4 linked regions of the Homo sapiens genome follow. The protein of the gene in region 3 purifies or fractionates together with the protein of the main gene of each other region. This does not show direct contact. Each region holds a gene or a part of one and is shown on either strand. Other genes may lie near its edges. The genes, in order: TOMM70, NDUFA10, ABCC2 and RAB31.

Region 1 (4,928 bases), on a different chromosome or scaffold from region 3:
CTCATGGAATGTTAACATAAACACACAAAATTACATAAATATTTCCAAAAAAACAGGTGATTTGCTAACATAATCTGCAGCATCCAAAAGGGTTCCAAGTAGGTATCTCAGCAGCAGAGAGCCAAAGGTTATGTACAACTAGGACTCCATGGCCACTATACAATTTCAAGATGTTCAATACTGTAGAAGAGGGCATACTAATTTGTAAGAAGTGAACTTTGCAATAAATGAATTTTAAATCTAGTAAAATTTTTGTCATTTTCATTTATAATATATATTTGTGACATAATTTCTTCCTTTAAACTGAAAATTCTTTTACGACTCCAGCCATACAGCTAACTGGAAGTATCTTATTTTACTAGAAAAATTTTTACTTAAAAAAAAAAAAAAAACAACCTTTTGAGCTTTGTGTTTCTGAATATTAAGAAACAGTTCTATGAAGCAGGGGTGAGAGAGCAAGTTACATGGTGTCATGTTTACAGAGTGTTTCCTCAAAATGTTTTTGCTCTTTATATTGATTTATGATGAAGCAGGGAGACCAGTTCTGTTTAGGGAAGTATAAAATCAGGGACAAACATCTATCAAGATGAACCCAAACAAATGTCCAGAGAAATACAAGAGCTAGGTATCAATCAGCACCTTTTTTCCTCAGTAGTTATCCTTTGGGAAAGAAAGAAAAAGACGACTTTGTAGACAATGAGATACTCATTTTTGTTGACGCTGGAAAATAAAAGTGATGTTTAGGAAAATACAAAAGAAAGTAGTACCTACCAATGCAAAACATTTCTGTGCTTGTGCCAGAGCAGACTCAGGTCTTAACCTAATACATTCATCAAAATCTGCCACTGCTTCTTCAACTTGATCAAGGAGTATTTTCAGCTAAGAAAAAAATACGTAAATAAATGTAATTCAACTAGTCCAGTTAAGTATGTTCAGTGTCTCATCTCTATTATTACACCTCAGCATAATGCTGAGCATGTAGTAGTAATTCAATATATAATTACTTTCTAGAAACAGTGATTTAAAAATCTTGAAATTTAAAAGGCAAGATTCCAAAACATAAAAATGGTATCCAACTTATAGAAAGGACTACAAGCCAACCATTTCTGCCCTGCAATTCTGATCACTATTAAGCAAGAAACCCCTTCTTCTAGAAAACTAAACATCCTGTACATTCTAATATCAAAGCAGGTTAGACATCAGATAATTACCTTTCAAATTAATCTTCAGACACTACCAGTAAAGATCAAAATGTCAAGAATTTTAAGAGGTTATCTCAACACTTAACACCCTTCTGAAAGAAATACAGTCATGCATATTTACATTTCAATCAACAGACCACATATACAACAGTGGTCCCAAAAGATTGTAATACTGCATTTTTACTGTACCTTTTCTATGTTTAGATATGTTTTAGACACACAGATACTTACCATTGTGTTATAACTGCCTATAATATTTGGTATAGTAACATGCTATACACGTTTGTAGCTTAGGAGCAACAGGCTACAACATACAGCTTAGGTGTGTAGTAGGCTATACCATCTAGGTCTGTAGAAGTACACTCTATGATGTCCACACAACAAAATCGCCTAATAATGCACTTCCCTGGCAGGACACATGACCCTATTAGGTAAAATTCTCCATTAGAAAGAACTTCGGCTCTTCTGTTATTATTAATGCATAGCTCACACTTTATACCATAATGCATTCCAAGAAGCCATGTTAAGCTGATTATAAAGCCATGTTTTCCCCACTTGAGGCAGTAATTGGAAACTGTTTCTTCACTATATATTTCTACTAAAAAACTAATATGCCTGTTATAAAACTTCAAAAGATAAATATATTTATTTTTACTATTTGGACAGTCCAGACTATTTCCTTATAGCAAGAAGCTCACAAAAATCATCCTGTTGATTCTAGAATTAACTCACATTGCTTACTAAATGTTATTAATGTTTTACTCATTGAAACCTATGAACCAGAAACACCAGAAAAACAAACTTGAACTGGTAAGCCAACAGTTTTTGCCTTCCTTTACTCTTTTTTCATAAGTAAATACCAAAATTAAAGACAAATATTCAAGACAGACTAAACAAAGGCCAATTCAAACTGTAAACCACTGTGATACTTTGTTCACAGCTATCAGAAATTATATAAGAAAACTCAAGAAAATTACATAAGAAATTCTCAAAAATGGTATCAAAGCTCAATCCACAAGTCAGACCTCTAGGTAAGAAAACAGACTTACCTGTCCTCGGTGGTGATAAACATCTGCATTCTGAGGATCGATGTCAGCAGCCATGTTAAAATCTTGAGTGGACAGCAAAGGCTGCTGCTGTTGCATGTACATGCTGCCTCTTTTGATGAGAGCATTTGCTCGAAGCTATATACCCCAAGTGAGGAAAGGTTCATCATTACTTTTTTTTCCCTCCAATCTAGTTTCTTTAAATAACAGCTTTTTTCTATAATCCACATATCACAAAGGTCACCCTTTTAAAGTATGCATGTCACCTGTTTTTAGTGTATTCACTAAGTTGTGTGTTGATTACCACTATCTAATTCCAGAACATTTTCATCACCCTTAAAAGAAACCACATACAAATAAGCAGTCACTCTCCATCCCCCTCACCTCCTACTCTTCAGCCCCTAGAAAACACCAACCTATTTTCTATTTCTATGGATTTGTATATTCTGGATGTTTCATGTAAGTGGAATCATACATTATATATAGCCTTTTGTGTCTGGCTTCTTTGATTTAGCATAATGTTTTCAAGGTTCATCCATATTGTAGCATGTATCAGTTTTTCATTCTTTTGTTATGCCTGAAAAATATTCCATTGTACAGATATCACATTTTATTTATCCATTCATCAACTGATGGACATTTGAGCTGCTTCCACTTTTTGGCTACCATAAATAATGCTGCTATGAACATTCACATACAAGGTTTTTAAAAAAGCTTTTTAAAAATAGAGATGAGATTTTGCTACGTTACCCAGGGTAGTCTAGAACTCCTGGGTTTCCAAAGTGCTGGGATTACAGGTGTGAGCCTCCACACCCAGCTCTCATGTACAAGTTTTTGTGTTAACGAACGTATTAAATTCTCTTGGGTATATACCTAGGAGTGGAATTACTAGATCATATGGTAAGTTTCTGAGGAATTGCCAAACTAATTTCCAAAAGGGCTTCACCATTGTATTAATATATTTCCACCAGCAATGTATGAGGGTTCCAATTTTCCACATCTTCAAAAACACTTATTATTGTCCAATGTTTTTTATTAGAGCCTTATTGTCTTTTTGATTATAGCCATCCTAGTAGGTGTGAAGTGGCATCTCATGGTGGTTTTGGTTTGCATTTCCCTAATGGCTAATGATGCCAACAATCTTGTCATTTATTATTGGTCATTTGTATATTCTTTGGAGAAATGTGTATTCAGATCCTTTGCCCATTTTTAACTTAGGTTGTCTTTTTATTGTTGAGCTCTAAGAGTTCTTTATTCTGGATACAAGCTCCTAATCAGATATATGATTTGTGAATATTTTTCCCATGTTGTGTGATGTGTTTTCTCCTTCTTGATGGTGTCTTTTCACACAGAAGTTTTTTTTTTTTTTTGAGACAGGATCTCTGTCACCCAGGCTGGAGTACAGTGGCACAAGTCACGGCTCACCGCAGACTTGACCTCCCAGGTACAGGTGATCCTCCCATCTCAGCCTCCTGAGTAGCTATGACTACATGCACATGCCATCATGCCCGGCTAATTTTCAGGCATGAGCCACCACCCCAGCCAAGCACAGAAGTCTGATCACGTCCAATCTATTTTTTTTTTTTGGTTGCTTGTGCTTTTGGTGCCATATCTAAGAAACTGCTGCTTATCTAAGGTAACAAACATTTAGTCCTCTATTTTATCCTAACAGTTTTATAGTTTTAGCTCTTACATTTAGGGCTCTAATCCATTTTGAGTTAATTTTTGTGCATGGCATATGGTAGGCATCATTACTACTTGCCACTAAAAGTCATGTGATCATGAAAACAATGCGTTTCTTTAAAATTTTGTTCAAAGCAATACTACATACATATAGAACAAATAATAACATCCTCCACAATTATAACAAAAACATATAACATATATCAGTTGTAATCATCAGGAAAATCAGCAGAAAATAATATTAAAGATAATATTATGAGGGTATCTTCAATTTGAAAATCTCATTTTGAAAGAAACTTTTAACAATATTTAGGTCTTAAAACAACTTTTATATCCCCCCCAAATATAGGAGAGGAGAGAGGCTACAGAGTTCATTTAATGCAATGAGGAAACAGGTCACAGAGATGTTAACAAACTAATAAGTAATATAGTTAATTGGTGGTTAAATTGTTTTGTTACACTGAATAGAATGTAACAATTCAACAGATGCCCCTGAATCTTAATTATGAAATGTGTAATACATAGCACATTAAGAATACTTAGAAAATGAAAGGCTGTTCCAACTGTACAACTGCAAGACTTTTGGCATATTTATACATTCTATTTTTAGAACCTTTCTGAATATATTAATGTGTTTTTATTAAGTGTTTTATAACCTGGTGCTACATATTACACGTTACTGACAGCATTATCTACAGAATTGCATATCACCTTTACCACTGCCCAAATACAGTCCAATATGGTAGGCAGTGGCTACAGGGAGACGATGAAACTACCGGATGCTATAGGAAAAAAAAATTTCCTTTCCTAAATAAAGATAAATATCATTGATATTTATGTTTTCAGATTCACTGCACCAACTACATTATTATTAAGAGTAGTTTCTTCAAAAACAAAAACAGCCCTTTGAAGAATGGCAGTTGAAATGCTTTAAAAAATCTGGCAAAACATAATGAAAGGCATCGCCTTCTATTTAATAATTTCTTCACACACATTT
Region 2 (4,928 bases), on a different chromosome or scaffold from region 3:
TGGGGACTGCGGGGTGACAGCAAAGGGTCCCAACATCAGCTAGAGTCATTCTCCTTCTACTACAGTGAACACCTGAGCCTGCCCAAGTGCTCCCATAGCGTGACTTTCTCCACACATTCTAAGATGTATACTTAGGGCAAGAAAGATGCCTGTTACGAAGCAGCACTGCCTGTCTTTCCTGTCTGCCTCGTGCCTGAGTGCAGGAATGAAAGAGCACCAAAAATTGGGGGCAGCGGCCTGTCTGTCCGCCATCTGTCCTCAGCACACTCTCTTCTTGTCACCTGACTCTCCCTGCATCTCTCCAACTTGCTCGCCACCTCCATCGCTCACCCATCTCCCCGCAACCACTTCTCCCACTTTCTACGGCTGTCACCTCTCTCATCATCTGAAATGCACTATGCGAATTTCAGAAACTTGAATATCTAATTATGAGTAGCAAGTTTTAAAATTTAAAACTCCTTACAGTCTCACACTATCTTCTCAGCCCGTTTTGTTTTCTTCACATCATTTACCTCTATTTGATGTATTTATTTATCTCCTTGCTTGCTGTAGGTCTCCCCCATCAGCATATGAGCTCACGGGTGAGGACCTCATCCACCCTGCTCACTGGTATGTCCCTAGCACCAAGCAGGGTCTAGGACAGGGTGGATGCTCAATCAACACTTACAGGAGAGAGAGGAAGGAAGAAAGAAATGAATAGGCCTGCGGTTTCAACCTACAAAATGATGAAAACATTCTAAAACTGGATTATGGCAAGAGTGGCAACAACTTGGTAAATTTACCCAAAATCATTCAGTCGTACCCTTAAAATGGGTGAATTTTATGGAGCATAAATTATACCTCATTAAAGCTGTTCAAAATAAGAAAAACCCTATCATTCAAAGAATATTTACTGAACATGTATTAATTCCAGTAATGCGACGGGGCACAGGGAAAGGATGATACAGGCAATGCTGCACTTCATTGCTCTGTCAAAAGGGGGAAAGGCAGTAATTGGGAGTTCTATTTTCCAATAAGGACTTGGTGTCTGGGCAGAGACCATCTTTGTTCATCTTTGCAGCCTCCTAGGTGCCTGGCACAGGCGCCTTGCATATAGGAGGTGCTCTGTATTAGAGGAGTGAGTGAAATCAACAAAAGTATAAAAGAGGTGATATGATTCTAAATCTCTATCATTAGCTATGTGCCAAGTAGAATAAGATTAAATGTTAACTGATTATAAAAGAAACTCTAGTGTAATATAAGCCCATAACATGCAACATAACACAACCATCTCAGAAATCTGACCTGAAGTTACTTGATAAAATATGTAGTTATTGATCACTTTGACTGTTTTCTTAGAATCTAGAAATGGTTTTCGGATATTCCTATCAGTTATTCCCAAAAGGTGCAATACTGAGACACAGACTGCATTGAAATAAAAATCAAAATAAGAACACAGACTTACTGATAATGTGATGTCTTTTATAAAATGGGGTAATTTTACCTGATGACAGTATTGAAGACTTTACTTGGAAAAATTAAGAAGTTGACAGCTCTACTTTAGACCTCAGAATTATTTTTGAAATACTGTTTTCCCAGATAACAAAAGAATTATCTAGAGAATGTTAAATGTATGACTTTGTTTTTCTCAATAAATGTCAGCATAATAAGCAAAGGTGTCCAGTTAGTCCACTGAGAAACAAACATTTTGAACTTGCAGTTCCCTCCTTTTGCCACTTGATGGAAGGTTCTTAGAAGTCTAGCTATACAACATACTTACAAGCATATGCTTAAACAATAAAAGTTCCAGAGTGGCAATAGAAAGGCATACATAGACATCTCGCTGTTTCTACTATTGCAACAGAGAAGGAAAGTTAGTCCCATGGATCTTTCAGGAGCAGCAAAAAATAACCAGAGCTTTACTGTTGCCCTGACAAGAACCCACCATCCAGAGAGGTATTTCCTGAGCACCTACAAGAATTCCGGCACTGAGGATGGGCATCAGAGTGAGGAACAGGCAGGTAGCCCTGCATTTTCATCACAGTATCAAAAAGGAGACCATATTCTCCTCCAGGAAAAAATAACATAGTATTAAACAAGCAGTGAAACCCCGTCTCTACTAAAAATACAAAAAAATTAGCCGGGCATGGTGGCGTGCGCCTGTAGTCCCAGCTACTTGGGAGGCTGAGGCAGGAGAATGGCGTGAACCCGGGAGGCGGAGCTTGCAGTGAGCCGAGATCGTGCCACTGCACTCCAGCCTGGGTGACAGAGCGAGACTCTGTCTCAAAAAAAAAAAACAAAGAACTCGCCACAGGGCAAAGACGGTCTTTGTTTCATCTCAGGATCCTCCATCAAGCCGCCAACAGAGCTACCAACGGCCACAGGGTCACTTCAAAAGGCGTTGCTTCGAGGCCACCTAATTAAGATCCAATGAAAACTACAAAGAGTAAATGGATGTGTGTGGATATCACTGCTCTACTGTTCTAGAATTGGTAAGTAAGAAAAAGGGGGAGAGGCACGATTTGCGTTAAATAGATTGAAGTGATGAGGGATATTAGAAATTGCTTCCAATGTGGAAGAAAACGATAGGACACAAAAACCTCATCAGAGAACAGAAAGGTACGTGACAGAGGGATGGAGGACGCTCTGCCAGGAGGCCCTCACCAGCCTCCCAAGTTTAAACAGCTGAGGGGACTCGGGGACCACAGTGGGACCGCAGAGCACTGGTGGGCGGCAGGCCCGCAGGCTGTGGCACCAGGCCGAGCCATGGGGTCTCCCCTCCACCCCTGCAGATGCCCTCTCTCAAGTGGGAACAGGGTGTGTGTCACCCTCCTCGTGAGGACTGGTAGGAATTAGTATAAATGCTATTAAAACAGGGCTTTTAGTGCTGATCTACATTCAAAATAGAGATGCTTGGCCTTTGATTGAAAACTGCATTACATCTCCTTTCTTCTGAATCCGCCTCTGGACCTCTGGAACGGGCACATCGATGTAAATCACCAGGTGGGGGGGCAGGTAATCGCAGATGGTGACGCTCTTCACCTCGTTGTAGTGGTCCACACCTGGCACATAGGAGAAAGGGGCGCTGTCACCTACCAGTCCCCACACGGGTTTCCAAAACACACTCCTCCTTGAATAAAAGGGCAAACATACACGCAATTCTCAAAGCCACGTACCAATCTACAAACCCTATCTCGGTCACAGTTCTAAGCACTGACCACACACATGGCATGTGACTGTGCTCCAGGTGCCACGGGGCATGTGCAGACAGCAGCTGTGGTGCCCACAACCCTGAAAACAGGGCTTGTCGCCTCCACTGTATTTACAAACCAAAGGTCTGAGGCCCAGAGAAATTAAGCTACTTACACAGAGTAAAACAGCAGCATTTAAACTGTGACCTTAATCATCCTAAAAGACAGATCTTTAGCACATCTTAGCCACATTTAAGGGTTCACTTTTGCTCCTGAGGCAAGACGTAGGTCACGCAAGATGGAGGTCACAGTTCAGTGATCTTTGAACTGAAATATATTCCATATACTTGCAGTATATATGTTGCAGGTATATAGTATACATGCTACTATATTTCTTCACAGTAATAATAGATACAAGAGTCTGGTCTTCTCTGAAGAATAAAGAACAGCTTTAAATACTTTATTTTTCAAATAACTCAGCTGAAAATCATCAAGCTGCATTTATCCCGTTTCAGTAGTATAATCAGCTGCACAGAAGTATCTACTGAGTCAGATTTAGTGACAACATGAAATTGAAAGCAGCTAAGGCTGAGGAATAATTCTCCTAAAGTGATCACTACACAGAATGCATAATCCAGGGGGCACCCGCAGGGCCCGTGCCACCCAAGGGAACCCTGCCGCTCTTCAGAGCACTCTGCACCTGCACATGCTCATGCACACCCGACCTCCCAGAAGCCAACAGAGAGTGCACGCCAGTGCATGTGGAGAGGCCATGCTGAGAAGCCATCCCCTCTGCAGCTTTTCACGTGTGGAACCTTCCAGAAGTGACAGATGGCCATGCTAGGGTCCACAGAAAGACAACTATTTTGCTTTAAAGGAAATGGGCTGGGCACAGTGGCTCACGCCTGTCATCCTGGCACTTTGGGAGGCCGAGGTGGGCGCAGATCACTGGAGCCCAGGAGTTCAGGACCAGCCTGAGCAGCATGGTGAAATCCCATGTCTACCAAAAATACAAACATTAGCCAGTCTCCTAACCTAGTCTCAAAATAAATAAATAAAAATTTTAAAAATTAAATTAAAAAAAAAAGTTCCAGTGAGCATTCCTAGTAACCTCACTCTAGAGGCAACTGTGGGATGAGCCTTTGGCTCAGGGTCAGGAACGGCACGAGCTAAAGAACAAGGAAGACCACCCAGGAGGAGGTGTGACAAAGCAAAGGACGGAGGCTGCCAGTGGAGTACCGTTCACCTGAGCATACAAACACAAACCCGCAGCCAGGCAGAGCACACGGGACCTCGGGTCTGCTTCCTGACTGCTGGACCGGTAGCAGGCCGGTCTCTCCTGCTGCTGAGGTGAAACCTCCCTTCACCGAGTCTGCTCTCACCCTGCTTCCCACCCTCACCCTTACTCCTGTCAGTACACCCACTTCTCAGGTGGTCCCCACCTTGCTCTATGCCACCTGTCCTTTAGCCAACATGATCTGCTTTCCCCCAGCCCAGCACTCAAACGACTCTGGCTAACATCACCAGCCCCCGAAAGGTGAAACGTGACAGTCACTTCTCAGTTCCCATCAGAGTCACAGCACATGTGACACCAACAACCAACCCTCCCCACATCCCCTCTGCTTCCTCCTGTGCACCTCTGATCATTCAGCTTCAATCCCTCAGTGGGGGTCTCATCACCCCAGAAATGGTCCCCAAAGGATCTGGTCTCAGCCCTCCCCCATCACCCCTTGGGCTTTCCCAAGGAAAGCATGCTCA
Region 3 (4,928 bases):
AACCATTATGCCCGGCTAATTTTTGTATTTTTAGTAGAGATGGGGTTTCACCATGTTGCCCAGACTGATCTTGAACTTCTGACCTCAGGTGATCCACCCACCTCAGCCTCCCAAAGTGCTGGGATTACAGACGTGAGCCACTGCACCCGCCCCTCCCCGCTCCTTTTCAATAACATGAGTGTGAGTCCAGCTTGTCTCCAAAGCCTGCCTTATTCTAAAGCATCCAATTCTAGGGACTCTTTCACCAATGCCTGTGACTCGTGGCCCTGATGAAAGTTATCCATCCTTGCAAATGACATATGAGGAGGTGTCCCACTCAGAGGCTCTCTCATCTTCCTTCCTCCGTGGATCTATTTATTCAGGAAAGCTCTAATTCTTCCACTAGTCCCAGAGTAAAACTACACATTTCTGCAGAGAAGAGCACAGTGAAGAATGAAGATAAGATCCAGGAGAAGAAACAGAAGACCAGAATCATGTTCTCTCCGGCCCAGCTGTGTGTAATTAATGATGGATTTCAGAGACAGAAACACCGCAGCCTCCAGCAGCTGCAAGAACTTTCCAATACCCTGAATCTTAGCTACAAACAGCATACAAGCTAGTTACAGAGAATGAAAGCTAAGAGGTGGTAGAAAGCCAACTGACCAAAGAATAAGCAACAATATGACTCAGGGCTCAGCATCTACAGAATACCCAGGCCTCTACTCTTCCTACCACCAGGAATGCCTGGGGAACACATCTGGAAACCTTCCAGTGTGGATCAACCATTCCCAGAAAAGTCAGACTTGGCACCCAGAAGACTAGAACAACCAGTCCCGGAAAAATCGGTTTCATAACTGTGGGGAGGAATCTTGGTAGTCCTGCATGCAGCTCCAGCGAAATTCTCCTGCCAGTTTTTGGAAGCTGTCTTGGAAACTGCTGGGGAAAGCTATGATGTAATACAGCAAACCACTAAGTATTTCAGTGCTTCACAAATCATAGGTTTATTCCTAAATTACTCCATGAACATGCAGCCTGAAAACGTGTGGAGATGAATATATTAACTCGATTTTAGTCTGGGTAGTGGCGGAATTCTTCCTTTTTCCCTCCCTCCCTCATAGGATTTTTCTTGTTTTACAGCTCTGTATTCTGCCTTGATATACTGGTTTTCATTGTACCTATTGGGTCTATTTGGGGGTGGGATATGACTGAAGTCTAATCAAAGAGGTTTCAGTAACCTTGGCTGCATGGTGGTATCAGTACGAGTTTGGCTGCTTAGGTACAAATGAATAAAATATCCACAAAAAGAGAGAAAAATGCAGATTTTTATGTGCTAAAATGGAAGGAGCTCTAAGACACAGAAAAGCACATATGGGACGCTAGCATTTGTGTGAAAAAATATATGTACGTAGCTGTTTGTAAAAGCACAGGCTATTTCTGGAAGGAGATATGAGGAACTGGTATCAATGGTTGCCAACTAAGACATGAATGAGTGACTAGAGTACTGGGTACCCTTTTGTCCTTTTTTTTCTTTTTTTTTTTGAGACAGGGTCTACCTCTGTCGCCCAGGCTGAAGTGCAGTGGTGTGAACATGGCTCACTGCAGCCTTGACCTCCTTGAACTTGTCAAGTGATCTTCCCACCTCAGCCTCCCGAGTAGCTGGGACCACAGGCACATGCCACCATGCCTGGTGAATTTTTTTAATTTTTTGTAGAGATCGGTCTCACCAAGTTGGCCAGGCTGGTCTCGAAATGCTGGGCTCAAGCAATTCTCCCACTTCAGCTTCCCAAAGTGTTGGGATTACAGGCATGAGCTACTATGCCCAGCTCCTTTTGTACTTTTTGAACTTTGTGATCCTCTGAGAATTATCCGTTCAAAAGATAAGTTAAATACACTCACACCCCCATTAAAAAATAAGGAAGTGATATGAACAGACAATTCGCAAATGAAATACACTTAACAAATTAAAAAAACAATTGCGTTAGTATTCATAAAAATGCAAAGCAACTCAGTGAGATGTCATGTTTACACATAAAAGTTGAAAATAACTCAATGCTGACAATGGTGCAAGGACATGCACTTTAACACACTGTTGGCAGGAATCTATGCTGGCAGCCTGCCTGGGCGACAGAACGAGACTCCGTCCCCCCAAAAAAAGGGGTAAAATATCAATACATGGTATAGCAATGGTACAGCATAGATAAACCTTGAACACATTGTGCTAAGTGAAAGAAGCCAATCAAAAAAGAACCATATTATATAATTCCATTCATATGAAATGTCTAGAACAGGGAAATCTATAAAGACAGAAAAGAGATTTAGCGGTTGCTAAGGATAAGGGGAAGGAGGAGACGGGGTTAAAGATAATGAAATGTTCTAAAATTGACTGTGGTGATGGTTGCACATATGTGTTAATATACTGAAAAAAACTGAATTGCATTTTTTTTTTTTTTGAGACAGAGTCTGAAGCTGGAGTGCAGTGGCACGATCTTGGCTCACTGTAACCTCCACCTCCCGGGTTCAAGTGATCCTTATGCCTCAGCCACCTGAGTAGCTGGGGTTACAGGTGTGTGCCACTGCACCAGGCTAATTTTTTTTTTTTTTTTTGAGACGGAGTCTTGCTCTGTCACCCAGGCTGGAGTGCAGTGGCATGATCTCAGCTCACTGCAACCTCCACCTCCCAGGTTCAAGCAATTCTCTGCCTCAGTCTCCTGAGTAGCTGGGATTACAGGCGTCCGCCACCATGCCTGGCTAATTTTTGTATTTTTAGTAGAGACGGGGTTTCACCATGTTGGCCAGGCTCGTCTCGAACTCCTGACCTCGTGATCCACCCACCTCGGCCTCCCAAAGTGCTGGGATTACAAGCGTGAGCCACCATGCCCAGCCGAATGTTTTTGTATTTTTAGTAGAGATGGGGTTTCACTGTGTTGGCCAAGCTGGTCTCAAACTCTTGACCTCAAGTGATCCACCCACCTCGGCCTCCCAAAGTGTTGGGATTACAGGCGTGAGCCACAGCATCCGGCCTGAATTGTATTAAATGAGAGAACTGTATGGTATGTACATTATATCTCAATAAAGTATTTTGTAAAAGAGTTAACTAATAGCTTTTATTAGGATGGGATATTGGTTTGCTCATTAACCAGCTTCTTCTTGGAAGCTCCAGAAAGTAGAAGAAGCCTCCCAACTTGATTGCTTCTAACCTCGAACAATGACTCAATTCCAAGGGTACTGAGAATGTTATTAAATGTTCAGAGTTGTTTAATGTTCAGAATGTTCAAAGTCTAACATATGTTTCTTTCCTTTTTATTTTTATTTTATTTTATTTTTTTAAGAGATGGGGACTCACTATGTTGCCAGGCTGGCCTCTAGTGATCCTACCACTTCTAGCTTCCAGAGGAACTGGGATTACAGGTATGTACCACTGAGGTCAGCTCTAACCTACTCTTGAATCAACCACTATTCCCAGAATGCATTTAACACCAACATTCAACAAATGTTGTATTCCAGTGGGAGTGTTTGAAACATGCTAGGTCCTGTGATGGGCACTCAGGTCAACAAGGGAGACAGTGACACTGTCCCAAGCTCTGAGACTGTTCTTTTTTGAATCAGAATCTAATAAAACCCACGATCAACCCCAACCTCAAAGTGTCAAGGTGAAATCCACTTCCTTTGGCCAAGCTCTTTCCTCCTTTAAGATTCCAGGTAACCTGAGTCATTGTTAGGTATGCTAGTAGAACAATGGAATCTAGTTTGCCTTTCTAAAAACCTGTTGAAAGATAAGGACTGACAGAGGCTGTGCAGGTGGCTCAGGCTTGTAATCGCAGCACTTTGGGAGGCCAAGGCAGGAGGGATCACTTGAGGTCAGGAGTTCGAGACCAGTCTGGCCAACATGGCGAAATCCCGCCCTACTAAAAATACAAAAATTAGCTGGACATGGTGGCGTGCTCCTGTAATCCCAGCTACTCGGGAGGGGTTGAGGCATAAGAATTGCTTGAACCCAGGAGGTGGAGGTTGCAGTGAGCCGAGATAGTGCCACTGCACTCCAGCCTGGGCAACAGAGTGAGACTCCATTTAAAATGGTAGTAATAATGATAATAAGGAGAGATAGAAAAAAAAATAGTGAAAAGAAGCAGATGGAAGATTTTATGAGATAATTTTACAACCTCGAATGAGGGTCTTGGGTTCCCACAAGACCCTTCCCTGAGTGAGTTGGTGCAGCTGGCTGAGGGCTCCTCCCCTCCTGGCCCCTCCTGGGCCTCTCCCGCAGACCTGTCCTTTCCATTATTTCCCTACTCGTGCTTGTCACTGTGCACACTTACCCCTCCTCCTTCTACTGTGAGTGATCATCCTGACTCATCAAATATGCGGGGAAAATGGAAACCTTATTTCGGACCCAAGTTTTTGAAGATGAGTGATAGTTGGATTGCCTCAGTGGGGCAGGAGATCCATTATCTAGCTCATTTTCACGAGGTAGATGCCAACTGAATTACAGTCCACTGATTTATTAGAGCTGTTTAAAGACAGGTGATCCAGTGTTCATTTCTCAAATGCTATAAAGATAATTTGATTGATTATATGCCCTTTGTGTTTAGGGAACCCAATATCCACAAGAATTAAGAGTCACCATTCTTATGCAAAAATCAAAGCCACTTTGATTTAAGAAATGCAGCAAGGGACCCGTGAGGGAAACCTTGAGCCTGGCTCTACCTGAGACAATGGCACCTGGGACAGCTGCTTAAAGACAAGGAAGAGAACACTAACCACCAAGAAAATGTCTCTACTGTGCACCAAGGAATTAGAGTTCAGAAACAGTGGTGTTAACTTTACCTGCTTAGCAAGATAGAGTTTGGTGGTAGAGGATCTCTTGGTCCTGGATTTATACACGTGGAGAAGCTGCCAGGGGGCCAGGAGCCATAGGTAGCCCAAGGGAATCCACACCAGAACAGTTTGCT
Region 4 (4,928 bases), on a different chromosome or scaffold from region 3:
TCCTGACCTCAAGTGAGCCACCATCCTTGGCTTCCCAAAGTGCTGGGATTACAGGCGTGAGTCACCATGCCTGGCCTTCAAATTGTAATTAGCATGCATCACTTTATGTTATGGTCTGAATATTTGTGATCCCCAAAATTTGTATGTTGAAATCCTGACCTCCAAAGTGACAATACTAGGAGGTAGAGCCTTTGGAAGGTGATTAGGTCAGAAGGCTAGAGCTCTCATGAATGGGATTAGTGCCCTTATGGAAGAGGCCCCAGGGAGCTCCCTTACCCAATGGGAAGACTCAGTCTGCAACCCCTTAGAGAGCCCTCACCAGAACCTGCCCGTATTGGCACCCTGATGGTGGACTTTCAGCCTCCAGAACTGAAGGAAATACATTTCTGTTGTTTTTCAGCCCCCAGTCTATGGTGCTTTACTATAACAGCCCAAAAAGACTAAACTACTTGATAATTTAAAAAATTAGCTCTTTAGAAGTTTATTATGAAAGTTCAGAAAATAAGGCTGGTTGCAGTGGCTCATGCCTGTAATCCCAGCACTTTGGGAGGCCGAGGCAGGTGGGTCACCTGAGGTCAAGAGTTCAAGACCAGCCTGACCAACATAGTGAAACCCCATCTCTACTAAAAATACAAAATTAGCCAGGCATGGTGGCGCATGCCTGTAATCCCAGCTACTTGGGAGGCTGACGCAAGAGAACTGCTTGAACCCAGGAGGCAGAGGCTGCAGTGAGTCGAGATCACACCACTGCACTCCAGCCTTGGTAACAAAAGCAAAACTCCATCTCAAACAAACAAACAAAAAAATTCAGAAAATATTTTAGCTGCTAAAATGAAGTATAAATTAACTACGTAGTATTGATGCCATGAGATGAACTTTAAAAAACACTTTCTAATCCCAGCACTTTGGGAGGCTGAGGCAGGTGGATCACTTGAGCCCAGGAGTTCAAGACCAGCCTGGGCAACGTGGCAAGCCCCATCTCTACAAAAGAAACCAAAAAAATTATCCAAGTGTGGTGGTGGGCACCTATAGTCCCAGCTACTCGGGAGGCTGAGGTAGAAGCATTGCTTGAACCCGGGAGGTCAAGGCTGCAGTGAGCTGTGATTGCACCACTGCACTCCAGCCTGGGCAAGACCCGGTCTCAAAAAAAGTAAATAAAATAAATAAAAAGTAAATAAATAAAACTTTCTTAATTAACCTTGCCATAAATGTAAATGCCCTGGCCAATAATCTGATTATTTAAAAAACAAACAAACACACAAGAACACCTTGCTCTTTCTCCTTGCCAGCAGTGGGCAAATTTTATGTGATACTCCACATACTGTGTGTACGTGTGTCTGTGTGTGTACGTGCGTGTCTCTCTGTCTTTCTTCTTCTCTTCTCCTCTTTCTCTCTTCTTCTCTCCACTTTCTCCCTCTGTCCTTCCCTCCCAGAGCGACACATTATATTTGCAGATCCTAGTTAGGAAAGTGATTCCATGAAGGCAGAGAGTAGTCCTGGAGAATGCAGGTATCCTTTTCTTCAAAAAAAAATACATTGATAGAAAGGCATCTAGCTCTCTGTGACATCCTGTTCAAAGAAGAGAAAATAGAAGGGAAATGACCTCCCTGTGTTCTGTTTGCTGTCCTGCAGGCCCCTTCAATTTTCTGATAACTCGAGTCTCCTAGGCACCTCTGGGGGAACTGAAAGTAGCCTAAGATATCTTCTGGGTTAAATATGGTGCAAACAGAAGCCACATTCATGACTTCTAGAGAATTCAAGCAGGTCTGAGACATCTAAACCAAGGAAATGTATTCGAAAAAAACTCATCAAAAGATCCCACAGTGAAAAACCCATTTGGTGACCTGATGTTAAATCCGACTTTTCGGAAGCAGGAGGATCACTTGAGACTGGGAGGTTGAGGCTGCAGTGAGCTGTGATCGCACCATTGCACTCCAGCCTGGATGACAGAGTAAGACCCTGTCTCAAAAAACAAAAAAACAAAAAAGAAGCCCACTTTTTGGCTGGGCAAAGTGACTCACACCTGTAATCCCAATATTTTTGGGGAGGCTGAAGTGGGAGGATCGCTTGAGCCCATGAATTCAAGACTAGCCTGGACAACACAGCAAGACCCCATCTCTACCAAAAAAAAAAGAAAGAAAGAAAGAAAGAAAATTAGCCAAGTGTGGTGGCACGCCTGTAGTCCCAGCTACTCAGGAAGCTGAGGCAGGAGGATCACTTGAGCCCAGGAGTTCGAGGCTATAATGAGTTATGATCACACCACTGCATTCCAGCCTGGGTGACAGAGCAAGACTCCGTCTCAAATAAAAATTCCATTTTTCTTTTCCTCATTTCTGCTGACAAAGTTAGGTAACAAAAAAGACCACTCTGGCTCCTCAGGACATACTCTCCTCTCCACAGCTCAGCAGCTTACCACAGGAGGAAGCTGTAGGACCAGCGTCAATCCCCGGGTAAATAAGAGGCAGACGCCTCCATCCTGGGCTCTGAAGACACTGAGCACACTCAATTGTCACCCCCGCCAGCCCACTCCCACCTCTTGCCTTCTTTTCCCATAAAGCACATACCACCTCCTAACAGACCATATGATTTATTTTCCCTACCTTCCTGCTAAAATGTAGGCTCCAAGAGGTCAAAGTTCTGTGTCAGACACACCACTGCCTGACACTTGCAGAAGCTAAGAAATTTTTTTAAATAAATGCCACAGAGATAAGTGGGAAAGAGTATTTTAATATTATACATGATCACGTTAAAAAATAAGACCACTCGAGATCGCCTGCGTTGTATTCTCACCCAAACAATGAACCTGAAAGAAGTAATGAGGAAACAATCAGACACTTCCAGATCTTGGGACCGCCTACAAGACAACTGGCCTGGCTTCTTCAAAAATGCCAGAGTCATGGGGAAAAAAGAAGGGGAACTGTTTTAGATGCACAGTGACTAAAGAGACAGGACAACCAAATGAAATACATGATCTCTAACTGGACCCTTTAAATAGCTGGAAAGGACATTTGGGGGCAACTGGAAACATCTGAACATGGACCATATGTTTGATACCCTGTGTTCATGTTCAATTTAGGGGATGGGAGCATAGTATTGTGGTTACATAGGAGAATGCCCTTTTTCCTAAAAGACACATACTGAAGTATTTGTGGGTAAAGTGCCACCATGTCTGCAACTTACTTTTAAATGGTTCAAAAAAAAATGTTTAGTATTATTTATAAACAGAAAGACAGGCTGGGCACAGTGGCTCACGCCTGTAATCCCAACACTTTGGGAGGTCAAGGCAGGCAGATTGCTTGAGGCCAGGAGTTCGAGACCAGCCGGCCAACGTGGTGAAACGCCATCTCTACTAAAAAAAATACAAAAATTAGCTGGGCATGGTGTTGCACACTTGTGATTTCAGCTACTCAGGAGACTGAGGCAAGAGAATCGCTTGAACCCAGGAGGTGGAGGTTGCAGTGAGCCGAGATTGTGCCACTGCACCCCAGGCTGGTTGACAGAGCGAGACTCCATGTCAAAAAAAAAAAAAAAAAAAGAGAGAGAGAGAGACAAAGGACAAGTGACAAAATGTTACTCCTGCTGAATCTAGGGGACATTCATAGTCCTTTCAACTGCTGTGTAAGTTTTAAATTTTTCAAAAAAAAAAAAAGGGGGCAAAGGGAATTAAAAATAAAAGACCCAGTGCTAGAGAGACAGGGAGTAGGGGGTGTCAATGGAAGAGTGGGCAGGCTGGGAGGGGAGGGACTGTGCCAGAAAATACAGTGAGATCCAAGCCCCCTGCCAGGGCCTGGAGTGCACACCCACCTTTCCTTCCCTGTCCCTTTAGGCACTGTTCAAATCCTTCCTACTCCAAGAAACCTTCCCAACTCCCCACTTCACAGCCCCCGCTGTATTTGACTCCCACCATATCCCACTATACATGCAACACCTCCTGCCTCACACCCATCAGCAAGGGCCGTGTTCCTGTGCGTGTGGCACAGGAACCAACCAGAAGCCTCTCCATCCCAGGCAGGGACCAGATCCCTGCCTGACCTACTTTCTGTCTCTAGCAGAGTTAGCACAGCACTGTGCGACAGCAGGTACCCAAGACAGACCTGGAGCAAGAACTTTCTGTCCCTCCCATGCCGTCAAGTCTACTAAGCGGGATGACAGTCAGTATTTCTCATCATCACAACACACTACTTCTGTTCCGCATGGTGGGCCATGGTAAGCACCATAATAAGAATCCAGTCAATGCCACAGAGCTCACTGCTGGTGTGTTCGTGTCTTTGGGAAGGCAACAATCACTGCCATCCTGTCTACATGCAGCCACCCACAGCTCCCAGCATAAAAGAAACACTCCACAAATGGTGAATGGCTGAATGAATGAATACCTATTCCATTTTCAAACACATGTCATAAGTGATAAAAACTAAGATAAATGAAAGTGTAAAATCTGCACAGGCATGCAAACACCAAATAAGCGTTATCTACCAGGCTTAATTAAATTTTAAAGGTCTTTTCCAATTAGTGAACTCAAAAGCTTTTGCGTTCTAGCACAGAGGTCCCCAACCCCTGGGGCGGTACTGACCCATGGCTTGTTAGGAACCAGGTTGCACAGCAGGAGGTGAACAGTGAGTGAGCATTACCAGCTGAGCTCTGCCTCCTGTCAAATCAATGGTGACATTAGATTCTCACAGGAGTGCAAACCCTGTTGTGAACTGCGCATGTGAGGGATCTAAGTTGCATGCTCCTCATGAGAATCTAACTAATGCCTGATGATCTGACGTGGAACAGTTTCATCCTAAAACCATCCCCCGCCTCCTGCTCCCATCTGTGGAAAAATCGTCTTCCACAAAACTGATCCCTAGTGCCAAAAAGGTTGGGGACCACTGTCCTAGCATCTTAAAATGTAAAGTTTCCTATTTTCTCATGGCTGTGGCCTTAGA

What was found.
Region 1: the proteins of ABCC2 (region 3) and TOMM70 fractionate together in Homo sapiens (co-fractionation; one large-scale study listed by BioGRID). This does not show direct contact.
Region 2: the proteins of ABCC2 (region 3) and NDUFA10 fractionate together in Homo sapiens (co-fractionation; one large-scale study listed by BioGRID). This does not show direct contact.
Region 4: the proteins of ABCC2 (region 3) and RAB31 fractionate together in Homo sapiens (co-fractionation; one large-scale study listed by BioGRID). This does not show direct contact.

The regions. Positions count from the first base shown.
Region 1 is NC_000003.12:100,372,767-100,377,694, forward strand, and holds part of TOMM70 (mitochondrial import receptor subunit TOM70), read right to left. Parts: intron 2,387-4,928; coding exon 2,252-2,386; intron 880-2,251; coding exon 772-879; intron 1-771. UniProt on the Homo sapiens protein: Acts as a receptor of the preprotein translocase complex of the outer mitochondrial membrane (TOM complex). Recognizes and mediates the translocation of mitochondrial preproteins from the cytosol into the mitochondria in a chaperone dependent manner.
Region 2 is NC_000002.12:240,011,820-240,016,747, forward strand, and holds part of NDUFA10 (NADH dehydrogenase [ubiquinone] 1 alpha subcomplex subunit 10, mitochondrial isoform 1 precursor), read right to left. Parts: intron 3,042-4,928; coding exon 2,920-3,041; exon of another isoform or gene 1-2,919. UniProt on the Homo sapiens protein: Accessory subunit of the mitochondrial membrane respiratory chain NADH dehydrogenase (Complex I), that is believed not to be involved in catalysis. Complex I functions in the transfer of electrons from NADH to the respiratory chain.
Region 3 is NC_000010.11:99,784,657-99,789,584, reverse strand, and holds part of ABCC2 (ATP-binding cassette sub-family C member 2), read right to left. Parts: coding exon 4,804-4,928; intron 1-4,803. UniProt on the Homo sapiens protein: ATP-dependent transporter of the ATP-binding cassette (ABC) family that binds and hydrolyzes ATP to enable active transport of various substrates including many drugs, toxicants and endogenous compound across cell membranes.
Region 4 is NC_000018.10:9,714,136-9,719,063, reverse strand, and holds part of RAB31 (ras-related protein Rab-31), read right to left. Parts: intron 2,804-4,928; exon of another isoform or gene 2,708-2,803; intron 1-2,707. UniProt on the Homo sapiens protein: The small GTPases Rab are key regulators of intracellular membrane trafficking, from the formation of transport vesicles to their fusion with membranes.